Regions from separate parts of the Homo sapiens genome. Here regions 2, 3 and 4 are each reported to be linked to region 1. Evidence: microRNA targets listed by miRTarBase, many of them from high-throughput screens and not tested one by one. Region 1 holds a microRNA gene; each other region holds the end of a gene's coding sequence.
Evidence for each region. Region 1 holds the annotated microRNA hsa-miR-4680-5p (AGAACUCUUGCAGUCUUAGAUGU, at 2,898-2,920, shown strand). A microRNA usually pairs through its seed, bases 2 to 8, with sites in the 3' UTR of a target mRNA and lowers its output. Matches are read on the target gene's strand: a 7mer-m8 pairs with bases 2 to 8, a 7mer-A1 pairs with bases 2 to 7 and ends in A, and an 8mer does both.

Region 1 (4,157 bases):
CTGATAGGTAATTTTTCAACTCTTGTCCTCTTTCCTACCTCCCCACTTTTGAAATTCCCAATGTTTATTGTTCCCATCTTCATGTCTGTGTGTACCCAATGTTTAGCTCTCACTTACAAGTGAGACCATGCATTATTTGGTTTTATGTTTGTGATAATTTTCTTAGGATAATGGCCTCCAGCTGCATCCACGTTGCTGCAAAGGACATGATTTTGTTCTTTTTTATGGCTATGTAGCATTCCATGGGCGTATATGTACCACATTTTCTTTGTCTAATCCACCATTGATGGGCACTTGGATTGATGCCATGTCTTTGCTGTTGTGAATAGTACCCGATAAATATACAAATGCAGGTGTCATTTTGGTAGAATGATTTATTTTCCTTTGGGTATACACCCAGTAATGGGATTGTCGGGTTGAACGGTAATTCTATGTTGAGTTCTTTGAGAAATCTCCGAACCACTTTCTACAGGGGCTGAACTAATTTGCATTCCCACCAACAGCGTATAAACCTTCCCTTTTCTCCTCAACCTTGCCAATGTCTGTTATTTCCTGACTCTAATAAAAGAGAACAGTTGTAAAACACTGTAACAAATCTACTTTCTGTGCTTCTCACGATTCAAATCTGACTTCAGTTTAACCATTTGAATATTTGGCCTTAAATACAAATTGATGACATAGTGATGGATTGTGTTTTATGACATTTATTTTATATGGGCTAACAATTCTGCATGTAATTTCATTGTTGTAGGGTTATGAGAGAATTTACAATGAAATTCCGGACATTAATCTGGATGTCCCACATTCATACTCTGTGCTGGAGCGGTTTGTAGAAGAATGTTTTCAGGCTGGAATAATTTCCAAACAACTCAGAGATCTTTGTCCTTCAAGGTACTTTATTTAAATACTACTTTCTCAATGTAAAATAGTGGATGAGATCTTTGGGAAGGTTAACTGCTAAGTTAGTTTATCGTTCCCTGAAGTCACTGAAGAACGTGACTCTTGTGAGTTCATGGAGAAAGAAGGGCGAAGCTTGTTTTAGCCCCCTTGTAAATCTGTACAGGACTGCCTCATGAAGTCCTAGTTTATTTGAAAGAAACTAATCTTGTGGAGCAGGTCCTTTGTTGTAAGTAGTTTCAGTGTTTAGAGTAGGTATTATCAGTGATAAGATGAGAAAATTGAGGCTTAGGGAGGTATAATGTACTTTTTCTAAGGTCACATGGCTAGTACATGGTAGAAGCCAAGTATGAATTCAGGACTTTTCTGGCTTCAAAGATCTAGGCTCTTACCTGTACTGGATGTGGCTTCCTTGACTTCTTTACAGGTTGGAGAATTAGGGCTAATTGGATGTTCTCACTAGAAAGTGTGTGTGTTGGGGGGTGTGTGGAGGATGTTCTCACTGGAAAGTGTATGTGTGTGGGTGATTTTCCTTGGAGCTATTAATATTTTTGCTACTAGTTGGTAAGTTTTTTTGTTGTTGTTAAAGCTAATAATGAAGCTTATAATGTAATAATATAAATGTTTAGTAATAGCTAAACTTTTTGCTTGTGTGGGTCAGTTTTATATAATCTTAAGTTCTTATAATTTTTTATCTGGAAAATTTCTTAAGCTTTGATATTTTTAAGTGCATTGTAAGAATTAAAAGTCAGAAAAATATTTCCTGGTAGGGGCCTTTGCTTTAGAATTTTAGAAGCCATTAAAAGAGAGGGAAAAGAAAGTGATGAAAGATAGTTTAATAGCTTTACTAGAAATGTTTGGAAATACAGACGTTAGCTTGGTGATGGCAGGATTTATGTATGGATGTGCCAAGTGATATACATCAGTAAAAACTCTGAACTTTGGCCTTCTTATTATTGACTGCTTTTTCATTCCCTACCTTGGTCTCATACAGTCTGAAGCCTTTATGTTCAAGATGATGTAGCTGTTTTCCACTTAGACTTAATATGAAAAGGGGCCAGTACCCTGGCATTGGCTTTTTGAAAGTTTTTCAGCCTCTGTTTGAAAGTCTGATTGTTTCTGTGTGGCTTTATTCTCAAGGGTCACATGAGGCAATAAACTTTCTGTGTATACATACCATACAGCTTTGACTTGGGTCCTTCATCTTTTAGCCTATTTGGGTAAGGTGCACATTTGTGTGTGGTTTTGCATGCTTGTGCCTATTGGCCTGGGGTCAGAGAGTAAGGGCTAATGTTGCCTAAGTTCTATTTCCCACTTACTGCTTTAGGCCACTGGCCAGCTGTTCCTTCTGGGCTATTGCCACTACATGTAGGTAAGAGTGTGGTTACATTATAGAGCAGGGCTTCTTGAGTTTGACAAAGCACGAATCCCAAAATGGGGCATAGGCTGTAATTCTGATTTTTTTCCACATTCAAGTTATGGCTTTTCTACAGTTGATAAAACATTTTTTTTTAAATTGCCAAACATGGATATTTTGATAGGTTGCACAGCTCCAGTTTGCATAATTCTGAATTATGTTAGTGTTTCCTATTTGGCTTACTGTTAAGCTTACAAATAATAATTAGAAATTAATTAGAAATAATTTTAAATTTCTAAATAAAATGTTTTAGTTTGAGTCAACTTTTTTTAATGTGACTCTGTTTGGATAGTGAACTTATTAAAACAAAAACTCAGATTTGATATTGATGTTTTATGCTAAGATATATAGTAGGGAGTCTTTTCCAAAGGAATTAGAGGCATGCTTTTTTTTTTTAATGGAAAACCCTTTAAAAGCTAACACGTAACGAAAAAATACCAAGTTTTTAATTTTTTTATATATTGACTATAGTCAGAATTTGTATCTGTTTTCATGTCTTTTTTTTTCTTCATTACAGGGGCAGAAAGCGTTTTGTAAGCGAAGGAGATGGAGGTCGTCTTAAACCAGAGAGCTACTGAATATAAGAACTCTTGCAGTCTTAGATGTTATAAAAATATATATCTGAATTGTAAGAGTTGTTAGCACAAGTTTTTTTTTTTTTTTTTTTTAAGCACTTGTTTTGGGTACAAGGCATTTCTGACATTTTATAAACCTACATTTAAGGGGAATTTTTAAAGGAAATGTTTTTTCTTTTTTTTTTGTTTTTCGAGGGGGCAAGGAGGGACAGAAAAGTAACCTCTTCTTAAGTGGAATATTCTAATAAGCTACCTTTTGTAAGTGCCATGTTTATTATCTAATCATTCCAAGTTTTGCATTGATGTCTGACTGCCACTCCTTTCTTTCAAGGACAGTGTTTTTTGTAGTAAAATCACTGGTTTATACAAAGCTTTATTTAGGGGGTAAAGTTAAGCTGCTAAAACCCCATGTTGGCTGCTGCTGTTGAGATACTGTGCTTTGGGAGTAAAAAAAGAAAGTTATTTCTTTGTCTTAAAGAATTTTTAAAAAATTAGTCATGAGACTTATTCATCTTTCCAGGGAACATACTGATTGGTCTTAAAAGACTAGACAGTTAAGTAAAAGGTGGCTGGAACATCTATTTTTCTACAAAACTGGAAAAATGAACCTGGTTCTAGAAGAATGTACACCAAAATAAAACATGTGAAGCAGTATTGATTCTTTATTGGGAGTACATTTTTTTAGGTCTCTTAAACTTTAATTTCACACAGTAAATTTTGAATCTCATAAGGAAGCATATTTGAACCTAGTCAATTTAATCTTAGTGTTCCCTTGAAAACTTTTTTTCCCTACAAAATTTTAAGTGAAAAATACAATAGTAAATTAAGATTACACTGGGGAAAAAAATGCAGGTATCACTTTACTCCATTGTTATCTGACCTAGAGCTTAATTAAGTTTTAGAAATATGTAATACCTTCCATCATTCCATCATCCTTAAATTCTGTTACCAAATAATGGCTAATGTTACAAAAAGTTATACTCCAGAGACCCAAAGCTTGACATTTACCTAATGTATGAGAAAATATTACCAATTAACAATAAAGAATGATCATATTTTTAACCTCTTTTACATAGCCTAATAACTCAGCAAGGCCTCAACGTCTGTGCTAATTTAAACTGCCAAATATTGACTGCAGCAAACAAGAATTATATTCAGAATTTATGAGGGTACTGTTAGGAGTATACTGCTTACAGGTTTAGATATAGTCTGTTAGAATTAAAACCAAGTTTAGTGTTCATATTTACCTCATGGGCTTTATCAAGCCC
Region 2 (4,139 bases), not on the chromosome of region 1:
AAGGACTCTCAGTATCTGGTGGGAGCTTGTGATAGATGTGGTCAGATTTGCCTTCCTGATGCTCGGCCCTGCTCCTGCCATTCATGGGGGCCAGACGGCCTGGGTCCCGTGACTTCTTTAACACATGTGGCCCTGAGAAAATCATTTCCCCACTCTGGGTCTGTCTCCTTATCTATAAAAATTGGATCACTATCCTACACTGTAGGATTACCTTGAGGATTGCATTAGGCAATTAGGAATAGCAGAGGTTAGGGATGTGACTGAGATGATTACAGATGCAGGCAGAATATTGGGCAACCGTTCTCTGGGCCCAGGGCAGAGGGAAGGGTGGTCTTTGATCTCCTCTTTCAATGTAGAAAGGATACAGCTCCAGAGGTTATACAGCAGCAGGATGTGACCTTGCCCATGGGCAGCAATGAGGCGTGGGCTGTGGGGCCCTCACCACGGGTCCCGCCTGAGCTCTCTCCTGTGCCTCCCAGGCCTCCTGGTTGTGTTCGCACCTGTGGTCCTGGGGCTGAAGGCAATTACCTTGGCTGCACTCCTACTGGCCCTGGCTACCTCTCGGAGGAGCCCTGGGCAAGAAGATGTCAAGACCACAGGCCCAGCAGGAGCCATGAACACCTTAGCATGGAGCAAGGGTCAAGAGTGAGGGGTCAGCCCCAGAGTGAGGACCCTCTGAGTTGGAGAGGAGCCAGGGCTCCTCAACCATTTCCCTACCTCCAGTCCCAGCCTCTAGGTGCCCCCAGGCCTCATGACAAACTCCTAGATCCCTACATCTGGTTTTGGTCCACCTAGTGAAATTCCCTTCTTTGCACCGGGCTTCCCTCTAAAATGTCTCCCTTTCTCTTTTTGGCCTGTTCAAGACCTCCTTGCTTTTCAGTCCCTGGCTCAGTCTCTCCTCAACACCCTTGCCCCTGCTGCAGCCCTTTCTGGTGCGCCCTGCCCCTTTCCCCACCTCGCTACATCCTTCTTGGCCTCCAACATCCAACTCAGAGTCTTCTTCCCAGGAGATGTCTGTAAGAATCTCTGAACTCAACCAGCCAGACCATCTGTGCCCCTCCATCTACACCTTTCTCCCCACTCCTTCCTGCCTTCCTTCCATCCCCCTCATGGCTGGCTTGGGCAGGTATAATATTAGAATGCAGGTTCAGCAACTATAACAAAGCTCTTAAATAACAGTGGCTTAAACCAGTGGAAATCAACCAGAAAGTTGACCATCAGCAGGCCAAGCAATACAGAGACTCCCTGGTATTGAGACCCAGGATTCACTGATCTCATTGCTACCAGGTCCACCTTCTAGGCAGCCAGACTGGAAAAGAGGGCAGGAAAGGGGAGCAGGACCCTCCCCTTTAAGTGCACAGTCAGGAACTTGGCCACCTCACTTATCTCTACTTGGCTGGAATGTGGTCACATGGTCACACCTAGCTGCAAGAAACACTGGGAGATGTAGTCTTTATTTCTGGCAGCAATGCGCCCAGCTGCAAGTTTTCACTAGAGAAACCAGATGGCAGATATCAGGGGATAACCAGTTATCTCCACCACAGCAGCATACAGACAGCCTCTCACCTGCCCTGTGGGACACCTGAGTTCAATGCCCAGCTAGCTAGCCAGCACTTCTTCCCACTATCACCTCCCCTGGGGCAGCATGATGTGGGGCAGTAGTTCCCAAGATGAGTGATTTTGCCCCCACTGGACTTTTGGCAATGTCTAGAGATGTTTTTGGTTGGCACAACCTGGGGGGGTGCTACCACCATCTAGTGGACTGAGAAGCCCTGACATGGGGAAGAGTGTGCATGCCCAGGAGTCAGACACACCTGCCTTTAACCCTGAGGCCTCTGCCTCCTCCCTGTGCACCCTCAGTGACTAATCAGAGTCCCTTCCCATCACGGAACATCCAGGATACTAATGTGGACTTCTCTGCATTGTGTAAGAACCAATTCAAGACCAGGCACGGTGGCTTATGCATGTAATCCCAGCACTTTGGGAGGCCGAGGTGGGTGGATCACCTGAGTTCAGGAGTTTGAGACCAGCCTGGCTAACATGGTGAAACCTCGTCTCTACTAAAAATACAAAAAATTAGCCAGGCGTGGTGGTGTGCACCTGTAATCCCAGCTACTTGGGAGGATGGGGCAGGAGAACCGCTTGAACTGGGAGGCAGAGGCTGCAGTGAGCTGAGATCGCGCCATTGCACTCCAGCCTGGGCAACAAGAGCAAAACTCCGTCTCAAAAAAAAAAAAAGAACCAATTCAATTCTGCATTTACTGAGGGCCTACTATGTGCTGTGTGCACTGCATGCACTCGATACATGTAAATTCCCTGTTCTCTTTCCAGGCAAACATTTATTAGCACTCACTATAGCGGCGAGTAGATGAGTCTAGATGTTTTTCATTACCACAAACAGAAAAACAGCTTGAACTAAGCCAGCGACAACAGTAATTTAGTCTGAGAATGGAATAAATTATTGAATTACCAGACATTAGAGAGGGTAGGGAAGGTAGGCTGAATACTAACCCCCACCCCAAAGATATCCATGTCCTAATCTCTGGAACCTTTGACTGTTACCTTGTATGGCAAAAGTAAAAATAAAAAGAAAAAAGAAAACAAGACTATACAGGTGTGATTAAATTAAGAATCTTGAGATGGGGGTGGGGGTTTACCCTGGATTATCTAAGTGAGCCCTAAAAGAGATGTTAAGTATCCTTACAAGAGAGACACGGATGGATCTTCGATGTAGAAGAGAAAGCAATGTGACCACAGAGGCAGAGTTTGGAGCTATGTGACCACAGGTTAAGGAATGCCAGCAGCCACCAGAAGCTGGAAGAATCAAGGAAGAAATTCTCCCCCTGGAGCCTCCGGAGGAAGTGTGGCCCTGCCAATACCTTGATTTCAGACTTCGGGACTTCAGAAATATGAGAAAATAAATTTCTGTTGTTTTAAATTATCAGGTTTGCAGTGATCTGTTACAGCGGCCACGGGAAGCTGAAACAGCAGGAAAGCATGGAGGTGGTTCTCCACTAACTGGAGGTGGGTCCCACCTGCCCTTGCAAGCCCCCTAGCCCTGTAGGGCCCTGCATGAGCTGGTCCCTGCCACCCCCTCTGACCTCATCTCCCCAGATCCTGTAAGCTGACTCTTCTCCAGCACCCCTCTGGACTTTGACCACACAAAGCTCCCTGATTCATTCAAGTCTCTGCTTAACTCTTACCTTTAAAGGCCTCTCTGGACCACTCTATCCAAAAAAGCACCTCCATCACTCTCATTCCTGCTTGCCACTTAAGTTTTCTTCATAGTACTTACTGCTACCTGAAAACATGTGTGTGGTGTGTGTGTGTGAGCGCACATGCATGTGTGTGTGCACCTATGTGGGTGTGTGTGCATGCATGTGTGCATCTGTGTGCCTGCGTGTGCACGTGTGTGTGCGTGTGTGTGCGTGTGTGCATGTGTGCGTGTCTGTGTGTGCGTGTGTGTTTGTGTATCTGCTTCCTTGATGGTTGTTAGTTGTCCCCACTAGAATTTGAGCTCCCTGGGGACAGGAACCTAATGGTCCACTATTGTAGCCACCCTCATTGAATCCTGAAACGTGGTTGAAAGCTGACTCTGTGCCAGGCCCTAATCAGTGTGCTGAGAAAGAAACAGAAGTCTGCTCTCTCAGAGCTTACCTCCTCCCGAGAGAAGACAGACAATGAGCAAGTAACCCTAGGTGAGTAACAGGCCCCACTATACTGAGTGCTGAGGGCCTTCACAACGCAGGAGGAGGGGGAAGGAAGTTGCCAGAGCAAAGGGGAAGTGACACTATTTTATGCAGGGTGGACAGAAGAGGCCTCCTGATAAAGTGACATTTGAGCAGACACCTGAAGGAGGTGAGGAAGAGAGCCCTGCAGATACCCAGGGGAAGAGCTGAAAAGTACAAGGAACAGCGAATGCAAAGGTCCTGAGGCAGGAGCGTGCTTGACTTGCACAAGAACAGCAAACACCAAGCAGAATGCCTGGCCTGTATTAGACCCCGTAAACGCCTGAACTACATACATGGCAGAGATGAAGCACACAGTCTCGGAAATCTGGCTGTGCAGGTTCAAATTCCAGTTCTCCTACTTATCTCTTGGGTGAGTTTGTTTCTCTCAGTTTCCTTGTCTATAAACTG
Region 3 (4,168 bases), not on the chromosome of region 1:
TGGACTCAGATTTTCTTAGGAGATATTAGTTCAAGTTTTTAAACTGGGAAACAATCAACTTCCATATATCCAGGAGAAACTTAGCATGGGGGGAGGTGCCTTAGTTGATGTGCCTGATAAGCAAACTGTTAGTTGTCTATTAGTATTATGTTTTCGGCTTAATGTAACAACAAAAGAAAGTTGTCACACTACCTCTCAGATAATATCAATTACAATCTTAGAGACTGTAATTGGGAATACAATCCTATAACAAGTTATTAACAATATCATGAATAGTTATTAAGTAAGTGCCAGCACTACATGCAACTTACTGGTCACCAACTCAGAACCCATAAAACTATACACATATGCACAAAAAAAAAACTCCAAAGAAAGATACCTATCACTGTACATATGAATACTGTCCAGGATATCAGATCAATTATCAAATCCAAGGTCTCTGCTGTTTTGTCTTACAGTGTTGAATATATGAATGCTTCTCTATTACACTGACTTGTACTATTTTCAAGAAATTAAGTGGATTCAAAATCTTACATTTTTATTTCTAATTATAAAATCCAGATTAATCCAAAAAACACAAACCACATGTAACCGAGGTAGGTTTTTCACCTTAAGAATACATTGCTTCTACCACAATTAAAAATTTTTTAAACTGAAGAAAAAAAAAAACTACATTGCTCCACATACCTGATACTTAATTTTCTATGTTTGAAACTACTTGAACAAGTGTGACAGTGCTAATCTACTATATTTAGTAAATCCCTTAGTACCTATAAATACACACCCAAAAGCCCTTCCCTCCTTCTCTAATGGTAACTGTTGTATAATAAAATTGTCAACAACTCTAGAAAGATGAAATAAAGATTACTATAGCAATCTTCAATTAATTCATTTCAGAAATCAAGGAGGCAAGTCATGTTCATTTTAAAGATGACAAACTTACTATTTTGAAAATGAGCTCATAAATACATTAGAACTTTGAATGTGCTTTATTATGCCACAAATTCCCAGGAGATTTAAGAAATAGTATTTCTGAACAGGAATAATAATTTCACAAATACTAACACTTTATTGACAATAGACAAGTCTTTTAGGGTAGTGCACATGTACTTAAAAACTACCTTCTACCAATCTCAACACTTTTTATAAATTTTCAGGTGAAACTGTAGCAGATCCTACTTTATTTTTCAATGGTTAGTGTAAAATTCTGTATGTAAAATAAGTACATATTTTGAGATGGAAGAAGGACTGCATGTGAAATGCTTTGCCTAAGTTGTAAGGCTCCTGTCTTTACGCTATCATTAAAGGCCAAAAAAATCACTGCTAGAAATGTTCCCCAAAAAATTCTTAAACAGCTCAGTCTTTAAAAGTATTAATAATTTTTTTTTTTTTTTTTTTGGAGACAGAGTTTCGCTCTTCTTGCCCAGGCTGGAGTACAATGGCGCAATCTCAGCTCACCGCAACCTCTGTCTCCTGGGTTTTCAAGCGATTCTCCTGCCTCAGCCTCCTGAGTAGCCAGGATTACAGGCATGCGCCACCACACCTGGCTAATTTTGTATTTTTAGTAGAGACGGGGTTTCTCCATGTTGGTCAAGCTGGTCTCAAACTCCCGAACTCTGGTAATCCACCCGCCTTGGCCTCCCAAAGTGCTGGGATTACAGGCATGAGCCACTGCACCCAGCCTAATAACTGATATAATTTTTTTAAGTGAAATGAAATGTTCCTTTATTTACATATGAATTAAATAGAAAATTCAAAGTAATTCTTTTAATAAAAACCCATATACTAATATATTTTAAGGTTGGATACTAACAGCATTTTCACAAGATCCAAAGTGTGGATGACGAACTAGGCAATAAGGACATGTGTGCCACATAACTAAGGGTAACTAAAGGAAGATGAGTACCTCACAACCAAAAGCAGTTAACTATGCCTGGCATACCACCCTGTCATGTGGGCAGATCACTGTTCCCATGCTGGGTAAGAGTCTCCAAGAAGGGAAGCCCTTATGCAGTAATTCTGTAACTATATTAAATTTGGTAATCTAACATTAAACTTTTTCGTGAGCAGTGAATATACACATGGTCATATGAAAACTGCCCTGGAGACCGGGTTAATTATTAAATAAACTAAAAGGGGAGAAATGCTGATAGATAAAATTATGTCAATTCCAGGGTGTTCAATGGAATAAAGAAACAGCAGCAGCTGCTTCAAAAGTAGACTATGATCAGAAACCTCAGATGGTAACCTTTAAAAATTGTGGAATCCAGAGTCTCAACCTAAACCTACATAGGAGCTACAGCCAGGGAGTTCTTTCTAAGTTCCTCAAGTGATTCTGATGATTGGCCAAGCTGGAAACTTCTGAACTGGGGGAGAAAGCCAACCTAGGTAAATGTAGAGACTTTTAGAATTCAACATTTGATTATCATTTACTCCACATTTTCCCCCAGCTGTCTCACCTTCTCTATTTTTCTAACAGTGAACAATAAAAGGGCTTGGCAAGTGAAGGAAAAAGTCAGTAGAGTACCTAAAATGGATTTGACTATATTCAAGCCACTTTCATATATTAACTAGATAAAAGGATACCATACTGCTATTTGAAATTCAATCACAAAGCAAAAATGTCATAATTTTAATGTATTTTAAGGGAAGACGGGGTTCTTAACATGAATATGTAATACAAAAACAATTCTAAATAATAATATTTAATAGAAGAAAAAATCTGTATAATTATTTAGAAGTAACTCTGTTTTTAAAATTTCAATGTTAGGAAGAAAATCCCTTAAATTTGAAATAGCGGAATATTCTCTCATATGAAAAAACTGTGTCCCAGTGTTATTCTTCAACTTAGAAATTAGGCAAAGTATTTTAGTACTATTTCTGCTTACATATTGTTTTGTATGAATGTTTTAAGTATGAATAATATTTTGGTTTTTAGTGTGCATGCTAATATAAAAATATGGATTTTTTTCTCCTACACTGACTTTGTACACTTTCCAGGCCCGAAGAATAAAAAACTTTTAAAATATCCTGTGTTCACTAGCAAACCTTGGAACGATAAAAAAAGGTAGTACCTACATAAGAAATTTTACATTGAAATTACAATTGTATGTTTTTCAGGAGTTAAAGTGATTCAATTTTTCAATATTCAAACACAAAATAGTAAATTTTTATTTACTATAGCACAATTCAAGTATTCTCTTAAATTTATATTTAGTCAACTAAAACATGACAGTGACTTTATAAGAGCTTTCCTTTTAAAAGGTTGCTGTTATAAAAAAGTATGACTCTATTACTCTAAATGCTTAGAATAAGTGGAAAGAACAAATGACAGTAGACAAAAACCTTTATGAGTGAGTCATCAACACATAAAAGGTTGCACACATCAGTAATAGGACATGTGAAGGTAACATCCCAAAAGTATTTGAACTCATGTAAACAAAGACTATGTATATTCCTAAGGGAGAAAATGTACTACCAAGATAAAATATATTCAAACGGCTGTGACTTTAAACCATGTATTAGTTGAATACCACACAAAACCAAAAAGGCATTATCTATCATTTAATAACTGAAAGATATTACTTATTTGTGAGATAAAAGGATAATGCTTTTTTAAAACCAATAATGAAAAAGAAGTATTTTGAAAACAAACATCTGTTTGCTAGAAATAAATATACTTGCTTAGTTATTTTAATGTATTGCAGCATAGGAATATTGTGCTAGCATTGACCATTAACATTCAATCAGTAGTTTAAAATATTTTTTCCACATTGAGTCTTGAATCCTCTACCTGGTCAGCTGACCCACAACTTTCAAAAGAGTTTTATTTTCCTGCTTTAGCTGTTCATTTTCATCTTCTATGTCATCTAGGTCCTTAAGAAAAAAAAAAGACACTTTAAAAATACTTAAAAATATTTGAGGAGAGATGAAAACACTTAATACACATTAAAAATAATTCATACAACCAATTAATTTTGAAATGAGGGCAAGCTCTGAAAACAACTTTAGATGTAATATGCCCCACCAAAAAAGAGCATCCATTACTTGACTCTTCGTTCTTACAACAAGTGTATAGGCCAACTCTTACAGATCTTTCAGTTTTTCAAAGGAAGCCGAAAGTCAGAATTTTAAAATTGTGAATCTTCCAATTTTCAATCATCATAAA
Region 4 (4,168 bases), not on the chromosome of region 1:
TCAACATTCTTTGTAGTACAGTATTGTCACTATCTATATTTTTTCCACATAATACTGGCTTCTTTCCACCAGCATTTGAATGGCAAATCCCTTAAAATTTAAAATTTAAAACAAATTTAAAATTTAAAAAATCCTCCCCTTTCTGTGATCCACCCGCTCGTCGCCTCTTGAGTTGCCTCCATTCTGCCTCCCCTTCTTCAACCTGTTCTAATCTAGCCTTTAGCCTTACTGATTTAGAGAAACTGCTCTTCACCAAAGTCACCCATGACCTTTTACTAATCCCAACAAACATTTTTGTCTTTGTCTTTTGGAAGCCTGTAACTTGGCTGCCCACTCTCTTCATGCACCCCCTCTTTTACCTTGAGGTTTGTGACATCTTCTAGCCAAGTTCCCTTCTTACCTCTCTGGCCCTTCCCAGTTTCAAGGTTTCTAGTGACTCTCTGCCCTAGGGATTTGCTTCCTTCCCACTCTACAGAGTCAGCCTAAGTTTTTTCAGCCACTTGTGTGGCTTCCTTTTCTTGATATATATGTAGATGGCTTGCAGATCTTTAGCTTACAGCTCTCTGCTGAGCTTCACACCCATATTTTTAGGTCTTATAGTTTATCTCACTTGGATAGCTTGCAAGCTACCTTAGATATGTACAATCTGAACTATACCCTTTACATACACACTGACATACACAAGCTGTTTTTATTTCTGTTTCCTCTCAGAGAATCATCTGTCTACCCAGTTGCTCAAAACAAATCGTTTTCTGACACTTTCTCTTCCCTTACATCACCTCTCCCCCAATTCCCCCACCCCCAACAACTAAATACCATTATTTTAATTCAGGCCATCGTGAACTCAAATGTACTATTCTGATAGCCTCCTAAATGGTCTGTCTGCTGCAAGTTACATCACCTTACAACCCCAAAGTGATCTTTCTAGAGTGATCCTGCTGCTCCTGCTTAAATTACTTTGAAGGTCTTCACTTTGTCATTAGGATAAAGTCCAAACTCTTCCTTGGCTAAGCCTCACTCTACTTGCTTCTCCAACTTTATCTTTTACGACTTTGTCTCTCCTTGATAGTTCCAGTCAAGTTTAAGTTCTTTAGTTTACTGAAAGGGTGATGTGTGCCCTCTCCACTCTGAGCCTTCATGCTTATTTTCTCTTCTGCTGGCATATTTACCAATACTGCCAAGTACCTGGCAAATGTTTACAATTTTTCAGGTCTCATCTTCAATGTAACTTCCTCTGGAAAATCTTTACTGACTACACCTTGCCCCCCCAGCTAGACCAGGTCAGATATCCCTGCTGTGTGCTTACTGTAGCATTTCATGGCATTTCTGAAACTTTCCTGTAATTGTAGAGATGGCAGGGACTTTGCTTGTACTGTTCACTGTTGTCTCTCCAGTATAGCGCCTAGTGTTTGGCACCTAGAAAATGTGCAGTCAGTATTTGTTAAATGAGAAGATACTACTTCCAATGGCATATTCTTTGAGCACCTAATTATTTAGAAGTTTCTTGTGTTAAGTGGAACTTTGTAACTTCTTTTTTTTTGGAGTCTAGCTCTGTCTTCCAGGCTGGAGTGCAATGGTGCGATCTCAGCTCACTGCAACCTCTGCCTCCCGGGTTCAAGCAATTCTCCTGCCTCAGCCTCCCAAGTAGCTGGGATTACAGGTGCCTGCCATCACGCCCAGCTAATTTTTTGTATTTTCAGTAGAGACGGGGTTTCACCATGTTGGCCAGGCTGGTCTCAAACTCCTGACCTCAAGTGATCCACCCGCCTCGGCCACCCAAAGTGCTGGTATTACAGGCGTGAGCCACCGCACCCAGCCTGTCACTTCTATTTAATGATTCTGGTTCTATACCCTAAGGAACACAAAGAACAAATCATTAGACAGCCTTCAAATGAATAAAGGAATGTGCTCTGTGCTTCTATTTCACATAGGGCATGGTGCCTAGAATTGAACAAGCGCCTAGGTGTGGCCTGACCTCAGAGTAGAGTGGAACCATCACTATGCTCATTTGACAGCCTATCCTAGTAATAAGGTAGATTGACATCATATCTGCTTTCATTCCACTAGTGATTCATAATGGCAAACTCCCTAAGTTCTTTTTCTAACATGTGTTGTTTCCAAGAATGATCTCCTGCATATGCATTTGTTTTTTGGACACAAGTCTAGGAGCTTACATTTCTTCTTGTTAAACTCATCCAAGTTGATGATGTTAAACTCATCCAAGTTGATGATGTTAAACTCATCCAAGTTGATGTTGAAGCAACATGCCAGTTGGCTAACATGGGGGGGATTTTAGTTCTGTCACTGTATTTGTTTTTCTACCTACTTCATGACATCTAATTTATAAATAAATCTTACTAGCCATATAATCAGAGACAAGGAACTTAAGCCTGTTTCTTCATGTGTAAATGGGGCTGATAACAGGATCAGGGTTGCTGTGAAGAATACATGTGCATATGTTCCCAGAAAACATAGTGCAGTTCTTGGGACACGATATGTACTCAATATATGTTAGCTATTATTATTCATATAATTGATAACAAAGTTGAATAGGGCAGGTAGAGGCAGATGCCTTTGTGACATCACTCAAAATCATTCTTCTAGGTTTAGACATATTCATTAATAATGGTTTCATGTCGCCCATTTCTATTTATTTTGCCCACAAAAACATTTTAGAGAACTTTGAAATGCCTTTCTCAAGTATAATATGATGTTTCTTAGATTTATTGCCTAGTACTCCTCAACCCTCAAAAAAAAAGAGAAAATTTTGTTTTCCTGATTTGTTCTTAGTGAGCTACCCAAACAACTTTTTGCCAAGACTTTTTGAATACTACCCTTATTTCTTTTTAAGACCTAAAAATACATAATAAATAAATAAATCTACCTACTAAGATTATACGAAGTGATTTATTGATACTGGTTAACATCCATTATATACAGGTAGAAACTTTCAAAATTGTACAAAGAACCATTAAGCATATTGATAAAGACAGTTTTACAGACAAAACAACTGGAAAATAGTTTTAACATACACAATATATAATTATGAAAAAAATGTAGAACACATATTGTTCTACCAGATAAATCCCAAGGTTATTAAAAGTCTGCTATGCAGACCTTAAGTTGAAAAATGTGTTCAATGGAGTTACATGGTTTTAGAAAATTAAGTATAATGTAAAAATTAAGCTTTTTTTTCTCATTGCAATTGGGAGAGGAACTGAGACAACTTTTTACCCCAAATCTATACAGTTTGAAAAATAATTTATATGTCTAGCATAAAGAAAATTGAGAATGTTTATGGTTCTGTAAACTTTGCCTTTTATGAAATGCAAACCACATCAGTTTTAAAAATTAGAAACTGTGCAATCAGAAACAGATTGTTCCCTTTATGGTACAATTGTACCTTAATTGGCTTTATACCTGAGCACCAAAGCTGAAGTTCTAAATGCCATCTCTTCCTGGAAAGTTATTCTGAAAATGAGCAAGAAATCAAAACTAGCCTATTATCATCTAGAAAATTAGGCACCAAGAAGGAGATTATCTCCTTGGAAATGCAACATCAATGACAGAGAAGTTTCAATTAATTAAGCAGCTGACAGATCTCCTTGTGAACACAACAAAGGAAATCCACATAAGAAGAGCCTCCGTAAAGTCCTTTGTCTTCTACCAGGAACTGTCGGAAAACCATTTCTGGTTGTTCTCGCTGCTTTACAATTGTGAGCTAGGAAAAAAAAAACAAAACAGTAACAGCCCCTGGTTATAAACATTATTTGAAAATGGGTCAATTTTGTCTATTTCAATTTTGGCAAACATTATTGAATGCCCATTATGTGTGAGGCTATGGAGGATGATGGGAAAGTGCCTGATATCTAGAGTGGAAAGAGGCATGGACCCCGAAACCCCAAAACCTAAGACATACAATTTTAAGTGGCAAAAATGAAACCTAAGCAGAGTGTTACGGGAAAGGCTTCACAGTGATAGTAACTGTCCCCTGAGCCTTAAAGGATAGGGGTAGGGCTAGAAAGTGTTCCATACTGGAATACATGTGCCATGTACCAGAGATACAATTATGGCTGGCATGTAAATTATCACAGGCTTCTTCTAAAAGGGACAAATTATCATCATAATGAGTTTGGGTTTCTGTAGGAAATGTGATCCAGTGAAGGTG

Region 2: miRTarBase lists SIRPB2 as a target of hsa-miR-4680-5p. Seed matches in the 3' UTR shown: 7mer-A1 at 1,585-1,591 and 7mer-A1 at 2,009-2,015.
Region 3: miRTarBase lists PAWR as a target of hsa-miR-4680-5p. Seed matches in the 3' UTR shown: 7mer-A1 at 3,426-3,432 and 7mer-m8 at 1,612-1,618.
Region 4: miRTarBase lists SEC24D as a target of hsa-miR-4680-5p. The part of its 3' UTR that is shown has no 7-base or 8-base seed match.

What each region holds. Positions count from the first base shown.
Region 1 is chr10:110,895,197-110,899,353 of GRCh38, forward strand. It overlaps MIR4680 (microRNA 4680), which reads left to right and starts at 2,894; the gene lies at 2,894-2,959. It overlaps PDCD4 (programmed cell death 4), which reads left to right. Exons shown (of 12, transcript NM_014456.5): 11 at 752-891; 12 at 2,832-4,157. The coding sequence ends at 2,892. BBIP1 (BBSome interacting protein 1) reads right to left here. Exons shown (of 4, transcript NM_001195305.3): 4 at 3,534-4,157.
Region 2 is chr20:1,472,677-1,476,815 of GRCh38, reverse strand. SIRPB2 (signal regulatory protein beta 2) reads left to right here. Exons shown (of 5, transcript NM_001122962.2): 5 at 480-2,238. The coding sequence ends at 649. Among named protein-coding and RNA genes, the nearest start is that of NSFL1C, 7.9 kb to the right of the region's middle.
Region 3 is chr12:79,588,818-79,592,985 of GRCh38, forward strand. It overlaps PAWR (pro-apoptotic WT1 regulator), which reads right to left. Exons shown (of 7, transcript NM_002583.4): 7 at 1-3,876. The coding sequence ends at 3,790. Among named protein-coding and RNA genes, the nearest start is that of PPP1R12A-AS2, 99 kb to the right of the region's middle.
Region 4 is chr4:118,719,935-118,724,102 of GRCh38, forward strand. It overlaps SEC24D (SEC24 homolog D, COPII component), which reads right to left. Exons shown (of 23, transcript NM_014822.4): 23 at 2,889-3,721. The coding sequence ends at 3,581. Among named protein-coding and RNA genes, the nearest start is that of METTL14, 37 kb to the left of the region's middle.